Regions from separate parts of the Homo sapiens genome. Here region 2 is linked to region 1. The links come from fine-mapping of genetic effects on plasma protein levels. Region 1 holds a variant in brackets. A gene starts in the other region. All regions are shown on their reverse strands. Region 1 has its middle 10 kb from the start of CCR3. Region 2 holds the start of CCL2 (C-C motif chemokine ligand 2).

What was found. PIP is the chance, under the fine-mapping model, that this variant and not a neighbour inherited with it causes the effect. The UK Biobank Pharma Proteomics Project read protein levels with antibody pairs (Olink). The fine-mapping took linkage between variants from a reference panel, not from the people measured, so its PIPs are less certain.
Region 2: CCL2 starts here. The variant in region 1 is fine-mapped to the plasma level of the CCL2 protein (UK Biobank, PIP above 0.99).

What each region holds. Positions count from the first base shown.
Region 1 is chr3:46,229,758-46,235,134 of GRCh38, reverse strand. It overlaps a transcript of CCR3 not described here. Among named protein-coding and RNA genes, the nearest start is that of CCR3, 10 kb to the left of the region's middle. The variant C/T (reference allele first, on the strand shown) is at 2,910.
Region 2 is chr17:34,252,721-34,258,097 of GRCh38, reverse strand. CCL2 (C-C motif chemokine ligand 2) reads right to left here and starts at 2,813. Exons shown (of 3, transcript NM_002982.4): 1 at 2,673-2,813; 2 at 1,759-1,876; 3 at 895-1,376. The coding sequence starts at 2,748. The coding sequence ends at 1,271. RefSeq lists enhancers at 2,142-3,116, 3,117-4,091, 5,035-5,377.

The DNA of each region.
Region 1 (5,377 bases):
ACTGAGTGACAGGCAGCTCTCTTTCAAGAGGAAGAGGAGCAGAGCTGGGCTAAGGCTTCCCAGCTATTCTTTCCAAATCTGACCAATTTAAAAGCCACTCCACCTCCAGTAGAGGGGTGGAGAGAAGCCAGATGTAGACCCTTTGAGCTCCCTTCAGGAGAAAGGGAGTGGGATGTGGGAATGGGGGCTATGCATGGGCGTGAGCCCTCCACCTGGTGAGTGGACCTGGTCAACTCCATCCTCACCACTCACTGTAGCCTTAGAATTCCCCAGAAGTGATTTAAACAACCAAAGAGCTTCATTTCTTCATAAAACAAGCTAAATGCTGGTGATGGTGGTGGAAGGAAAGCCATAATAAAGAAATCTTAAAAAGCAGTGGTTCTGGGGCAGAAAACATAAATTTGGGATAAATTATCGACAGGAATATGGAATTCAGCAGTGACTCAGATCTTCATGGGAGTGACTCTACTGTGTGTTCCACATAAAAACAAGGGAAATCAGGGGGTATTTTGTGGGGTGCTCCAGTTAGGGCAATGAGTGCTCATCAATTGCAAGACTAAGCTTTATAGAATGTTAAAACGAGGCTTAATTTATGTGAGGATAAGCACAACCACATAAATTCTTGGTAGAAATATGGCTCCAGATAACATCTGGAGCCCAAGTGGACTCTGAAAGGGTATGTGGTCACTCTGGGAGATCTTGGATCTGATGTTTCACAGATGTCAAGGATCTCCCCTGGGCTTTCTTGGGTATCAAGAGCCCTCAGGCCTTTCAGGTTGAAGCTTCTCATGAACTACCCATTGATTAAACCAATGAATCCATCCCAATACATTTAATGTCTCTTAGGATAAAAGCATGCACTGTTAGAAAACACTCCTGGAGATTCACAGTGCATTAAAGGCCCCTGAGAAGTCCTGTAGTGATGAATCTGTTTGAAACCTTCCTAATCCAGCATTTCTCAAACCTATCTTTAACTTAGAAAAAAAATACTTTTCAAATGACAAGTGTTAACATCTCTCAAGGTCAGGATGCCTCAGGAGCACTCTGAGCAGTGCCGGCCTGATGCATGCACAGGCACTACAAGGGCATACTGCCCCCTGTCCATTGTCTTACCTTGACGGGGTATCCATTGCAGCCCAGGAGGTGGCAGGATGCTCTTGCAACCCTGCTACCTTACCCCTGTGTTGCAGATGGGGAAGCTGAGACTCAATGAGGGACTTGGCAAAAGCCACAGAGAGTGAAGGGCAGAGCTGGCTCTACCCCAGAGCTTGGGCTAGCCACATGGTGCTCTGTTTTCCGGCATGGTACTGCCGTCTGAAGAAGAGTTGCCTGTTGCCCTTCAGCCAAAGGTGAGGATGGCATCAAACCTGAAGGAAACCAGAACACAAAGTGGTTTCCCCAAGGTCCAGAATGGCTCGTTCTGTCCTGGCTTTTCCTACCACGGGAAAGAAATTTTTGATGCTTCTTTTGGGGTTCTTAGCTCACAGGAAAAACAGAGGTGTGTGGGAAAACCCAACCAAACACAAATGTCTTCCAATCTCCCAGATTCTCACTGCCACATTACACTGAAGCAGACACATTTCTGGGGGGCGGGAAAAAAGAGCCAAAACAACAACAACACACGCAGAAGATAGCTTAGGAGTATGGGAACATGGGAGGGGAAAAGCAAAGAACCTCAGAAATAGGAAAGGGTCAGCAATATTTTGCAGGAGAGCATAGGTCAAGCCACAACCTTGAGCATGTGAACGGAAACGATTGCCAGAGCAGCAGGGAGAAGTGCAAAGCTTCCTTTAATGCACCCACCTTCCTTCCCGGGCACCAGGGCCAGAAATGTGGGGCTCCAGCCAGACTTGTGTTTACTGTCACTTTTCTAGTGAAGTTAGTGGAAGGACTTTTGTAGCCAGCAGGGCCCCTCTCTAGCACGTTGGCAATCCTGTGTATTTCTGTGTTCCCTCCACTGACAGCACGTCACCCTCCTGTGAAAGCTTTACAAAAAGGACTATGGGCCGGGTGCAGTGGCTCACGCCAGTAATCCCAGCACTTTGGGAGGCTGAGACACGTGGATCACGAGGTCAGGAGTTCGAGACCAGCCTGGCCAACATGGTGAAACCCCGTCTCTACGAAAAATACAAAAATTAGCCAGGCGTGGTGGCGTGTGCCTATAATCCCAGCTACTCGGGAGACTGAGGCAGGAGAATTGCTTGAAATCAGGAAGTAGAGGTTGCAGTGAGCCGAGATTGTGCCACTGCACTCCAGCCTGGGCAACAGAGCAAGACTTCATCTAGAAAAACACAAAAAAGGATTATTCCCCTGATAGATAGCCTATTCTACAAAAGAGACAGGAGTGAGAACGTGGAAGCTGTGCTATTGGGGGAGGTGGTGGGCCACCTGTGATTTCAAGATAACAGGTGAACAAGAGTCTAGCATTGATCTGGGCCTTGATATTTACCATCAGTGCAACATCACATCCAGAATGGCACCAAGGATGGGGCAAACCACCGGTGCAGCCATGAACATGCCCCTCCCACTCCAGAAAGCCTAAGACCCCTCTGCAGGCTCTGAAATCAATGTTGTGCTTCCAATGACTGAGCACACAGGGATACTGAGGCAGGCCCAATCCCTAGAGATGCACTGACATTAGCTTAAGGACCCCCACGTGGCTATGCCAAACCTTCCTCAGGCTGCAGAACAGTCTAGGATGCGTCTACTACCGCTTGGTTCCCCTGCTACCTCACTGGGGTTCTGCCGGCTTTCCCAGCCCTTCCTGCTCCAGCCCACTTTCCCTCCCAGGTGCTTTTCCAACAAAATCTTTCCCTGTGTAAAACCTGCTTGGTGGCTGCTTTTAGAGATCTGGACAGACGTAACCTTCATGTTCAAATTAGCTTCAACATATTCCTTCAGGGCATTCC[C/T]GTGAGGGATTGTGTTGTTGCTTGTTCCTCTAACCATTCTGTGTGTTTCATTTTGCTCATTTTCATTTTTTTATAAGAACATCAAAAATCTAGTATCAAACTCAGTAAATAAATATGACGATGAAGAAAAAAATTGAACAATGATTTAGAAATTATGCAGAAAATACATTTTTCTCCCCAGGATATGGAAAATACTTCCTAATTAAATGCAAAAACAATGCACTTCCAATAAACAGGAACAAATTCATATAATGTTACCCAAGTAAAATATGTGAAGTTCTTATTTCCATGGTACCTCACACTGTCACATGGGCCCCTGGAAATGCAAGAGAGACATTGGGGCAGGGAAAGAGATGGGATAGATCAATAGATCTTGTTTCTCCTGAAACAAGATAAGAGGGGTGGATGAATAATGGATCTTTTTTAAAAACCACTTTATTGAAGTATAATATACAAAAAGCTGTGCATATTTAATCTATACAACTTGATGAGTTTGGAGAGAAATATACCCCTGTGAAACCCTCATCATAATCTATACCATAAACACAACTATCACTTCAAAAGTTTCCTCCTGTCCTATTTATCAAGATTATTACTTTAACGTAAGATCTACCCTCTTGGCACATTTTTAAGTATACGATGCAGTGTTGTTAGCTAGAGGCACCATGCTGTTCAGTACATCTCTAGGACTTATTCATCTTCTGTAACTGAAACTTTGTGCTCGTTGACTAATACAGATAGATAGATAATAGATATTGAAGCTAACCGCTCCTTTTCCTACAAGTAACAACCAGAAATATTTCTTATTGTGGGAAGATGTAATCTCTGCTTTGTTCACACCTGAGTAATAAAGTGTTTTGGAGCCTTCTATAAACTGCAGTGGCGATCAGGATTCTCAGAAAGTCATGTAGGGAGGGGTGCACAGCCCATTTCCATATGGAGTGCTGTTTTGCATCTCATCCACAAGATTAATCTGGGCACTTTTAAAACTTGTCAAAATCTGGGCCTGGCACAGTGGCTTATGCCTGTAATCCCAGCACTCTGGGAGGCCAAGGAGGGCAGATCATGAGGTTAAGAGATCGAGACTATCCTGGCCAACATGGTGAAACCCCTTCTCTACTAAAAATACAAAAATTAGCTGGGTGTGATGGTGTGTGCCTGTAATCCCAGCTACTCGGGAGGCTGAGGCAAGAGAATCGTTTGAACCCGGGAGGCAGAGGTTGCAGTGAGCCAAGATCGCGCCACTGCACTCCAGCCTGGACGACAGAGCGAGACACCTTCAAAAACACAAACAAAAAACAAAACAAACAAAAAACGGATCAAAATCTGTTTTGAGCAGCACAAATCCTGAATGAATAAAAACATGTGCCTAGGTCCCTGCCCTGGAAAAGATCAGAGGGCCAGTGTGGAGGGTGGAGGAAAAGTGCCTCGGTCCTTAACACCGATAAAGATGACTTTAATGCACCCAGGCTCATGAACTAGGACAGTGATCCGGAGGACGGGGCGAGGAGGTAGATGGAGGGGCTGCATTTACATCGTCAGAGGGGGCTGGGCCCTCTGCTAAGGGCTTTAGGTACCCTGTCTTGTTCAAACTCTTCAGTGACCCTGGGAGATGAGTGCATTTCTTTTTACCAGTTCACAGAGGAGGCACTGAGGTGAGTTTGTTAAGCAACGGGCCCAAGATCACACAAGCAAAAAATGGTGGGGCTTGTCCTGGAATCCAGCTCTATCAGATTAGTACCCAGCCCTAACCACTCTGCCTGCTGCCTTCCTGGAGGTCCGTTGATGTGGCATGAGGGGTTACATAGGACCAGGTGGCCTGAGGGGTGGGTGGTGGAGTATTTCTGTTCACTCCAGGCTTTCCATTCCACTCCAGAGGCCCATGTCCAAAATTCAGGAGTTGAATTTTATGTCAGGACACCTCTGCTTTAATTCTACACTTCTCTTTAATAAAGAAAATCTGAAGAAAACTTGCATATTGTGACTTCATTACAGAAAAGAATGAGTCCTCCTTATAGAAGGAGAGTGTCATGGATATTGGTGGGGCTCTGCTGGACCCTGTGGAGTCCTTCTTACCTTTCCTATGCACCCCTTTCTGTTTCCATGTTTTTTGCTTCCAGCTGCTTGCACCTATGATTCTATCAAGACCTGCCCTCTGACTACTGGAGTGGTTTTGCCCACAGAGCCAGAAGGAATCTCTCCAACTTCCTTGTCTTGTGTCAGAATAGACTCTGAGGCATAACCTAATGCTCCTGAGTCCAGCGTCCACTCATGGGATAAGGGCTACCCTAAGGGCTCTGCCTGGGACCACGCTCTTACTTGGCCTCCTCCCTCTCTGTCCTGCTTCTCTGACTCCTATGCTGTTTTTTTTTCTCAGCACATTTCCTTAATATATTCCTTGCACACGAATCTTCACCTCAGCATCCAGGATCATGATCTAAGATAAGGAGTTTACCATGTATGGGATC
Region 2 (5,377 bases), not on the chromosome of region 1:
TGGACCATGGCAATAGCTTCTCACTAGTCCGTATTTCTCTGTGTATGTATAAAATCTATAAGTTACATTTCCTGAAACTTATCTCTGAATCTCTAAACATGGCACATCCCTCCTCATTGGACTGAAGATTCTCAACGTTTCCTTTTAACCTACAGAGTTGAGTAGTAACTTTTCACCCTAACATTCAAATCCCTTGACTCAACCTTCCTTTCTAATTGTCATCCCTTGACATTGGTGTGGGCCCGAATTCGCATCTGGTTCATTGGTTTTCTCCCTGCTTGATGTACACATCATCACCATTTCTACCTCCAGGTATTTGCTCCCACTCTTCCTTCTCCTTTCTTAATGATCCTATAATTTTCCTAGAAAAGCCTTCTTCATTCATAAATAATAAGTTCAGGTCTCATCATCTCTATGAAACTTCAATCTAATCATCTTATCTATGGTGATTAACTCTTTCCTTATTTCCTAATACTGGCAGTGTCTGTATTACTCCAGGTTGGGGTATTAATTGGAGAGGTACAGATTGGGGGGTGGGTAGCCCAGTTAGGGGGCAGTTGCAATATGTTAAGGGAAGAATTGCATGCAGGGGTCAGGGTCTGTGAGAAAAGGAATGGGGGTTGGGCTCTTGCTAAATGGGTGACCAGGGTCATTGGACTCTGGGCTGCTTATGTTGAAGACTGGAAGGGTGGTGCTTTAATGCCTAACTGGCCTGCCATAAAGATTCTTCTACGGAGACTCAGAGGAGACCACCCAGTGGAGAAGACCGGGGCCAATCCACTTTCCCATTCCTTCAAAATGTAAGCCCCACCCTCTGAAATCATGTTCCTTTGTCACCACCAAGCTCATACTCTCAGCTTTGTAATTTCCTTCAAGAAAACACTGGAAGTCAGGTTTTGTACAAAAATATATTTATTTGGTGTAATAGTTACAAAATATTCATTTCCACAATAATATTTTAGCAATGCATTGGAATGTTAAAAAAAATTCTTTGTATTAATGATTCTTGCAAAGACCCTCAAAACATCCCAGGGGTAGAACTGTGGTTCAAGAGGAAAAGCAATTTCCCCAAGTCTCTGTATCTAAAAAACACTAGTACCATGAAAGATAAACTTAAAACATCAATAACTTAAATAAGAATTAACATTACTTAAGGCATAATGTTTCACATCAACAAACAAAATTCATTATAATAAAATAAAACAGGGTGTCTGGGGAAAGCTAGGGGAAAATAAGTTAGCTGCAGATTCTTGGGTTGTGGAGTGAGTGTTCAAGTCTTCGGAGTTTGGGTTTGCTTGTCCAGGTGGTCCATGGAATCCTGAACCCACTTCTGCTTGGGGTCAGCACAGATCTCCTTGGCCACAATGGTCTTGAAGCTGTGGGGAGGGAGGACAGAGTTAGATGAAGTTCCTTTGCAGTTTTGGTCTAGAAGTGCAGCCCATTCTGCACCAAAGGGCTGCCATGGGAGCTAGAGGAGGAACGCAGGTGGAAGGAGGGAACCCAGGGCAAACTGCTCCTATAGGTGTCCAGGTGGAGCCATCCTGACTTCAAGCTAAAGAAATTGGGGTGTTCTGAATAGGCACCCAGGTGGAGAGTGATGTTGGGGTTCACTTTTTCCCTTGGTGCCTCAGTTTTCCCATTGGGAACCTTTGTACATTAAGTTAAATAGTGCACTCTCTGACTCTAGGTTTATGAGGCTTGTCCCTTGCTCCACAAGGAAGAACTTCAGGCCAGGGAAGGTTGGTGTGCTGAACTCACATCACAGCTTCTTTGGGACACTTGCTGCTGGTGATTCTTCTATAGCTCGCGAGCCTCTGCACTGAGATCTTCCTATTGGTGAAGTTATAACAGCAGGTGACTGGGGCATTGATTGCATCTGGAAAATAAACCACAAAGAAAAAGCATTTTAGGATGAACTGGATTATTCTGATCTTAAGAGCAGAAAAGAGTCATGAGGAAAAAGCAAAAGGCAGGCAGGAGAAGACAAAGAGCTCATTAAATCCCAGTGCTTCTGCCTATACCTCAGAGCTAGAATGTGATCTTTGACCCAATGACTCAGTTTCCTATGCTGTAAAATGGGTATATAACATTGATAATGGACAGAGAGAAGGAGGAGCTGTTAAAGCTAGATAATGCCTACAAGTGTCATTAAGACGGACCAATAATCCAGATGATCAGCACCAGGGAAGATCAGCTGGGGAGCCCCACTATGAGCCTCCTTTTAGACTCTGAATAGGCTATGCCTGGTCATGAGTTTCCCTGATACTCATTACCTCTGCAGAGTCACCGTCTCTGGAAGCTAAGGTGAATGAAGCACAGACCAGATTCTGGGTCTCCAGCGTGTCTGGAAACAGCCTACACACCCACCCTCTCTTTGATTACCCTGATCCCCAAACTCTGCTGGAAGCAGCTGGGGGAGTAACTGCGCTGAGTGTGTTCCCAGAGCTGGAATCCTGGAAGGAGCTGGATTTGGGGTTCACAGCTGGAATTCTAGTTCAGGCTCTGCCGAGCAGCAGCTGTGTGGTTGGGCTCACCCCTTGTCCTTTTCTGAGTCACCTTATCTTGGAAAAGTAGCGTTAAAGCAAGACTGTGGGTACCACGTCTGCTTGGATGGTCCATGATAACTCAGAGAGAAGACAATGTGGTTCAAGGAGAAGAAGAGGGGGCCTTACCTGGCTGAGCGAGCCCTTGGGGAATGAAGGTGGCTGCTATGAGCAGCAGGCACAGAAGGGCGGCAGAGACTTTCATGCTGGAGGCGAGAGTGCGAGCTTCAGTTTGAGAATTGGATGTTTCTGGGTTAGTCTCAGCCTCTCGGTTCCTCTGGCTGCTGTCTCTGCCTCTTATTGAAAGCGGGCAGAGGGAGAGAGGGCGGAGTCAAGCAGGAGGAGGGATCTTCCATGAGTGATAAGTGGGCTGTTAAATCTGCTGAGCAAATGCAGCATCCTGTGGATTTCCAGGAAGTAGGAAAGGGAAGCAGGGGGTCAGGACGAGACACTTTTTCCATTCACTGCTGAGACCAAATGAGCAAATGGGGAGGATGGGGTGCCATTAAGCCCAGACTGACCACAGATGTGAACTAAGAGGGTTATTTTTAAGGATTCTGCTTTCTCTGAAGCGAAAACTGCAGAAAAGGAAGGAAGCGAGGAAACTAGATGAAAGCATGTCAGGCTCGCTGCCAGCTTACCTTCAGGCCACATTCCAAGGGGCCTCCCAGCCAGGAAGGAGCTCTCAAGCTTTGGCCGGCTCCCTGACAATGCATTAAATCCATTTGCTCATTCAAATGCAGAATAGTAGCATCATAGAAGCCTAGCAGAACTGTAGGATTGTGTAAACATTGAACTGAATTCTAAGAGTTCTAGGGTTTCAGACTTGGACAAAGGCATAGACAGCATGTAGTGCTGCAGAAGAAATGCCAGTGTCATACTCACAGAGTGCTTACTCTGCCAGGAATATTCTCAGACCTTTACAAATATTAACTCTGTAAATTCCCCAACTTTATCTAGTAGGGATTGCTAATTTTCATGTTATAGATCAGGCAACTGAGGCACAGAAGGGTTAAATAGCCTGCTCAAGGTCCCCTCGAGCACAGAACCCAGGCAGCCCTGTCCCCAGTGGGCTGCCACCTCTCTGACATACTGCTGGAAGGAAACGTGTACAAGTCCTCCAACTAGTTGCCTGCTTGGGTCCTCTCTCTGTCCTCAGCATCTTCCAAATGGGCAGACAGCTAAAGGAGAATCTAGAAACATTCCTCATGGCTAAGTCATTATGAGTTAGGAGGCTGTTGCTAGCATAGCAGGCAGCAGTGGACAAGAAGTTCATCCCTGGTTATGGCAGCTATTCTCCTGGCTTCCTTCTTAATTTCCAAGGGACATGAGTAAGCAGTGGAGGAGTATTTCGGGAATTGGAAAGCCTGACTTCATTCCTCAGTTGTGCCTTAGATTTCCTCAGAAACTACAGAAGCACACTGATAAAAACCCAAAGACCTTAGAATTCATTTCAGTGAACTGTTGTCTCTTACAAATATGATAGGAGTACTTGAGGCATGTTAATGGCTGGGCTGAGTTTAAAATTCTGATCTCTCGATTCTCCTAGCCCACTGCCTCCTCCTTCTGAGCCTTGCGGTGCCCTTGCCCAATGGGCATACAAAGACTAGTGACTTCTTTCATAAAGGGTCACTGAGGCAATGTCTATAAATGCATGGGGTTTCTTGAAAGAAAACACTTTTCACTACACTTGTAAAAAGAAACGGGTTGTATTCAACAAATGACTGTTTTATTTCTAGTAAGTGGTCAGTAATGGCATTGTTGAGTGCATTCAGGGAGTCAGGTATGGTGCTGACATACTTTCCAGCGCTGCCTGCCCAGTCCTCCAACCAACCCAGCTTTCGTTAGGTTAAAACTGAAGTTATTTGTCCAGTAACTCAGACAGAATAGTAGATGTGCTGAGACTCCCACCCAGGATGTTTCCATTCCAGAATCTCTTCTTCCTGGGACTAGACTTGATGTCTCATGATGGATATTGGTTTCCTGGAGAATCCCAGAGCAGAGACTCTATGGAGTGGCCATTTCAGACTCTGGTGGAATTACAAAAAGCAGGATGAAGAGAGAACAAATCAACTCGAGCCCTGCTTTGCTTGTGCCTCTTGAGGAGCCTTATTCTTGTTCTGCCTGAATCTCACTAGTTACTCCTTTTCTCCCCAACCAGTGTTGAAACTTCTCTGTGTTTGTCTCAGTCCTCTGCTCATGCCTCAATCCATTCTTATCCAATGAATAAAATGTTTCCAGGACTAGAGACTGTGCAACTTTGTGTAGGAATTTCTTCCTAGGCCATCTCACCTCATCTTCCAAGAAGTTTTCCTCATATCAGGGGAAACCTCTCTCTAATCAGTTAGTGCATCCTTTACCATGAACTTGGTGGACCGCATTCAATTTCCCTTTATAATCCAGTCATGCTTCGGGTTTTCTCTAGGTTAACAAGCTGAAAGATGCTGAGATCTTTAAATAAGTCTCTCCTGGCTTAGTCATATCAGCATCACTCATAGAATCCCAGAATCAATGGGCTTATAGACATCCTGTGGCATGACCACTTGTTTTTATCTGATAAAGCCACAATCCAGAGAAGGAGACCAATTAGCCCATGGTCACAGAGAAAAACTTCCCAGCTTTGCTGGCTGAGTGTTCACATAGGCTTCTGAGTGTTGGAAGCATGTCTCTACTTCAGGAAGGAGTTGTCATCTCTGGAAAGTGACTTGGCCTTTGCATATATCAGACAGTAAACACAGGGAAGGTGAAGGGTATGAATCAGAAAAGAAAGTCTTCTGGAAAGTGATAGCTGTCTGCCTCCCACTTCTGCTCTGTCAAGAAAAGATGCCCTCCCC